Linked DNA regions of Homo sapiens: region 2 is linked to region 1. The links come from fine-mapping of genetic effects on gene expression. A gene starts in region 1. The other region holds a variant in brackets. All regions are shown on one strand. Distances are between the middles of the regions. Region 1 holds the start of SIM1 (SIM bHLH transcription factor 1). Region 2 has its middle 84 kb from the start of SIM1-AS1.

Evidence for each region.
Region 2: its variant is fine-mapped to the expression of SIM1 in skeletal muscle (FUSION, PIP 0.95).

What each region holds. Positions count from the first base shown.
Region 1 is chr6:100,463,190-100,466,106 of GRCh38, reverse strand. It overlaps SIM1 (SIM bHLH transcription factor 1), which reads left to right and starts at 1,186. Exons shown (of 12, transcript NM_005068.3): 1 at 1,186-1,493; 2 at 2,172-2,813. The coding sequence starts at 2,639.
Region 2 is chr6:100,308,261-100,311,177 of GRCh38, reverse strand. No RefSeq gene overlaps it. Among named protein-coding and RNA genes, the nearest start is that of SIM1-AS1, 84 kb to the left of the region's middle. The variant G/ATAAAATAAAG (reference allele first, on the strand shown) is at 1,432.

The DNA of each region.
Region 1 (2,917 bases):
TGCCCCGTCACTGGTGTTCTCACTGATTTTTATGGTAGATGAAACAACTCCCTCCAAACGCACCTCTAGGAGCCGAATCTGGTCACCGGCGTACCAAAACCAAGCCGGGAGTCGAGTCTGTAGGGGGTGATTCGTGAGGACAACAATTGTTTTTGGGACAATTTGACTTTTTCTTGATGCTACCTGTTGTGTTTTCTCAGATGAGAGAAAGAGAAGGCGGTTCAAATTAGAGGGTCTCTAAAAGATAATTAGTCAGCAAGAGTCCTGGTGAGCGTTTGTTTAAACAGCTCCTATTAGGGAACCGCGAGCATCGTTAAGTTCATTCATGTAGACTGTATCCTTTCTGTAAGGAATAATCATGTTGGACTTTTGTTTCCTGAAACAAAACCCGACAAAGAGTTGGCTAATGTTTAAGATAAAGGACTGTTGGGAGCTATGTATCTCTATATCAATCATTCTATTTTGCCCTGAAATGTAAGCTTTTCCCCTAGTGTCCCCCTAGCTGCTCCCCATAGGAAAACTCCCCGGCCGAGTTTCCACGGTGAAAAAAATCAGCCCCAAACCCAAGCCATTTCGAAAAAGACGCACTTCTTTGGGATTAATTTAAAGACAGTTATTGTATTTATTTCCTCTGGCAATGAATTCCGTGTCGCCATGGTTTCAGAGAAACGAGAAAGAGAAAATAACTCCCCAAACCGGCCTCGCGCACGCCGTCGGCCAGCGACTGCCAGCGGGATGGGCCTTTGGGCGAACCCTGCCTCCTCCGCCGGTAGACCTAACCCGCAGGCCCGACCTCCGCTGCCTCCGGACGTTCCCGGTTCTGCTGGGCCGCCGCGCTGGACTGAGCGCTCAACCACCCGACCCCAGGGAGCTCGAGGAGCGCGGGTCGCGCACGACGTCGGGAAGGCCCAGGAGGCCGCGAGCAGCGGCGGCAACCGGACAGCGCCGACCCGGCACCCTGAGCTCATTAGGAGTCCAGCGGTCCCGCGGGTAGTAAGATTCAGAGCCCGGAGCCTGGGCGCGCGGAGGGCGGCTCGGGGCCGACTCGTGTCACTCAGCCCTATTGGCCAATGAGCGCCTCGCCCCTGGCCGCGCCAGGCCAATGGGAGGCGAGGGGGCTTGTGAGTGGCATTGAGGGAGGGCGGGAGAGAGGCGGCCCCGGAGTGAAGTTGAAGCTAAACCCTTAAGCTATAAAGAAGTTACGGGGGGCAGTTTTCGGCTTCCAATTAGGAATAATAGTGAACTGGCTTCGTAGCAACTACGGAGGACCAGGATTCTAAAATCACCTCACTCGTCCCAAAGCTTGCATCCTCCTCTTTCTGCCACGCACCCCTCCTCCAATTCATGATCCAGAAAAGGGAGCCGGGAATGCTCTGCTCCTCTCTGCCGGTGGGAAGCGGAGAGGCCGGCGGTGTCGCTGGGTTGGACGGTAGGCATGAGAACAGTTAAGAGATGGGCGCCCCCGAAACCTCTGCCGCTTGTGGGGACTGAAGGTAGGTGAAGCAGAAGACGCCCCGCGCCCGCCCAGCAGCCCCGCAGCTCCGCGGTGGTGTGGGAGAGGCCGCGGCGCCTCCCACCCCCGGGGGAGCCTGCGAGGGGCTGTCGCGAGCGCGCCACCTGTTAACCTGGCGCTGCTGGGCCCCGCTTGTTGCAGCCCCTGCTGGGCAGCCAGAGCGCTGGGTCGCCTTGGGAGTCCCGAGAGACTTGGTGTGTAAGTGTCACTTTTTGAGGAATCCCTCAGACTTGAGACCCAAGTTAAAGAGGTAGCCAAGGTCCAGATCTGCCAAGGTAGGGAGCTGAAAGGCCCCTGCCTCGCCTTGGAGGAATTCTGATTTGCGGAAACCTGCTTTCCTGGGACGTGCGCCCGGCCTGGGCGCGGACTCGGGGATCCGCGGCGGAAGATCCCTTGCGGGTCTTCAGAAATATGTATTTTGTTGTTTGGGCAACTTCCCAGGGGTCTGGAGGATGCGGCTGGCATGGGTGAGGGAATGCCAGCATTATTTGCAGGGGGCTGTCTCGCTGCCGATTTACCCGTTTCTTTAAAAACAAACCCAAAACGCCTGGCTAGGCGCACTGAGGCCCTTTCCGGCCGTGTTTTTGGAATTGGGACGAGTGTGTGAGTACTTGTGGAGCCGCTGATCTCTTATGCTCTGATGCTGTTGTCTTCACAGGGCCTTGAAAGAGTTGTCTGGGGTTCCTGCTCTTCCCAAAGGGGCTCGGAGATACCTTAAATGCCGCGAGACTGAAGAGCAAACGTCAGGGATTATTATGTCGATTTTCCGAGGACCAGGGTTCGCAGCTGGCAGTAGAAGAAAAGGCTGGCTCCTCAGGGGTCCCACTGGCATTTGATACCCTGAACGACCCTCAGGATTGCCCAAATTCGGTGGATCGCCCAAATTCGGTGGATCAGCAACTTTCCTATACTGCATCCCGAATTTTCAAAGAACATATTTTCCGTTCACCCCCGCTGGTCTTTTACTGCCATCAATACACTGTTCTTGGTGCAAATACTTCAGCCTCTTTATTCAAAGTATGTTTTATGTTTTTGCCAAATATGATCTCTAATTGAAAGTTTATTTTTGGTTTTGGATGAATCTGCGGAGCTTAAGTTGTGAGAAGAAAGGGGGAACAAGACACAATGAAAGAAAAGTCCAAAAATGCTGCGCGGACTAGGAGGGAGAAGGAAAACAGTGAATTTTATGAACTGGCTAAATTACTGCCTTTGCCCTCGGCTATCACCTCGCAGCTGGACAAAGCATCCATAATCAGACTCACGACCAGCTATCTCAAAATGAGAGTGGTGTTCCCAGAAGGTAAGTGACTTTGCCCAGATGGAATTTCAAAGGCAGAAGGGGCCGGGGATTTGCCAGGCAATGAGCCGACATCAGTGACCAGAGAAATGCATACATATTTACAT
Region 2 (2,917 bases), 150 kb after region 1:
ACAAATTCACCAGTCTTTTCCTTTATGGTTAGCACATTTTGTGTCTTAAGAAATCCTTTTGTTCTCTAGGTCATAAATGCATTATCCTTTTGTTCTCCCTACAAGTCTGACAGGTTTGCCTTCCGCATTTAACTTTTAATAATCCTAAAATTATAAGTTTTGTACACCTACTTTCATTGTGCTGTTTTTATATTTATGCAGCAGGTGCCCAGGGCTGTCAACTGCCATCATGTAAGCTAGGATACATTACAACAGATGTGCCCAAATATGAATACTCTACAAATCAGAGCCACCAACTTTTCATCCTGGGGCAGATTTGCAAGCTCAGCTCCAAAATGCAACTTGTGACTTCTTGGAAAGCAACAGTTCGTTATTTCAAATAATTTAAAAGCTGCATGATAACTTTGTGTTTCAAACTAGACTCTCAAAATTTTTAGTATTTTTGGTCTTTAGATGGCTAACTTGATCTTTTCTCTCATCTGGAAGAAAATGTTCTGTGACCATGTGAGATAAAGGAATGACTAGAGGTGACACTATGAGAAACATCATCTAGAAATGCTAGATGACAGTAAAAGTAGCCGATGCTGATGAGAGGTGAACAGCAACTTGTGTTCCTACTCTTTAAAAGATTTTATTTCAAGGCTGTTAATAGTGACTTTGTATATTTTAGCAAATTCAGTGTCTAGGGGGTCTCATTTTTATATGGTAAAAATCCCGCCTTACATGAACTAAGAACAGTATATTCAAAAATTGTCTGGAATTTTATGTTTGTTCTCCATGAAATGTCTAATTATCCAAAAGCTCTCAACCCTTTTCCCCTAAAAAGATATTAGGGCAAAGTTTTAAGGATGTCTAGTCTCAATGGAAAACTATGAAAAATGGCTTTAGTTTTTTTCTAATATGATTTTTTCTGTAAGAAACAGTTAAATACATGATTTTTTCTGTCATTTCTTTAGAGAATAAAAGGAGATCCAAATCATACTGACTAATAATAGTAACACTTGCCTTAAATTGCATCAACATTAGTCTTCCATTTTATATCTGTGTCAAATTAAGTGATAAACTTACATTACATCAGATATCTGGCCCTGTGAAGATCTAGGACAATCTCATATGAAATTGATGATTTATTAATAGTTTCCAAAAGTGGATTTAGGCTATCCTAGATATTAAGCAAATTTAGAGAATGCCTTAGTTATTTTCTTGAGCTTTGTCTTAAAAATATGGACTGAGAGCTGAGCGTGGTTGTTTGTATCTATAATCCCAGAGACTCAGAAGGCTGAGGCAGGAGGATCATTTAAGGCCAGGAGTTTGAAGCTGCAGTGAGCTATGATTGCCTGAGCGACCAAGTGAGACCCTATCTCTAGTAAAATAAAATAAAATAAAATAAAATAAAATAAAATAAAATAAAATAAAATAAAATAAAATAAA[G/ATAAAATAAAG]ATATGGGTTGAAGGTAGTATCGTTTGGTTGAAACAATACAAAATAGTAAATTTTCAAGGGTATCAGAATGAAAAAGAGGTAGTGTAGTTAAACTTAATCCCAAGTAATAACTATCCAGACCGCTGGCCCACTTTTAAACTGAGAACACACTTGCTTTCCTTTGCATCCTTTGCCAGAATGTGTGTAACACTTCGAGCTGGGATTTCAAGGACAGTCAATACAGATTACTACAGAATCTTATTTATATGACATCCTGGGTGTTCTGAGAAAAACCTGGGAAACCTATGCAATAGTTTATAGATGAGCGGGACTTCCATATTAGGTTTTGCCTTGGCTATGAGCATGATATGGGCCCCTATTGCATAATCCCTCTTGATGGAGAGGTACCTCTTGCAATGAAAGTCAAATGCATTATTTTGGCTACTCAGTCTTCCCAGCTGCCACATGTCTTATTTTATGTCTAGTGGGCAGCTGGTTACAGCTGCCTGGAGACAGTTTTATTCATCAGAAGTGAAGTTTTATTCATCATTGGTGAAGTCTGGTGCTTCTCGAAACTCATATCATGGGTGGTAAGGTGTCTCCACAATGATGCTGATGAGAGAGTCCAAGCAGCTTTGGGGGCTTTCAGAGGACTCCCCTGACTGCAGAGGGATTCTGAAGCCTCAGTTTCCAATCCTGATCCAACATTCCATGTTTTGTGGACTAACCATTCATTCTCTTCTAAACTTTACTGTTATTGTTTTTTAACCCAATGATCTTGATTATCCGATGTCTATCTTTGAATCCTCAAAAATGGATAGAAATATCAATGCAGGGGAGAGACATAGGATAACGGCCCTCTAGGGTAATGCCTCTGCAGAATGACCAGTATTTTGGCACTATTAAAAGTGTGTGTTCTTGAAAGATCTTGTCACAACTCTTGTTTCCAATTTGTGTAGGAGATCTAGTGACAATACTGGATCATGTGAGGGAAGTGTGTTGTGGACAACAGAGCCACAGGTGAGGAGAAACTAGCAAAGCAGTTCTAATGCTTACACTGGACTGATTTCTGAAAAACAAAGTACAACACAACAAAACAAATTTCTTTCTTGTTTGAGTCCTGATGTGTGTGCATTGCATTTGTTGGAGCAGTTAGACCAAACCTTCACACCGATAATACATCTTTTGTGCTTTCTTTCCCTTATGAAAAATTAGCATTTATATATCTATTAGAGGTGTTTTGTGGTATAGATAGGCAGAGATGTTGAGAAGTCTTAAAACCTTAGAGTAGGGCACAGCACTAATCTACCACCTAATGGAGAAATCTCCTTTACAACTGTCAGTGTAAGTGCCCACCCTCTGCTGGAATGCCATCACACTGCTTGAGGCAACACCATATGCCATAGGCAGACAATATAAACTGAAGCTGGAAACAGAAAGGACTCCTTCAACTCCTAATTCACAAATTTCAAACTTTATTCATTTTTTTTCTTCTCTTGAATTTAA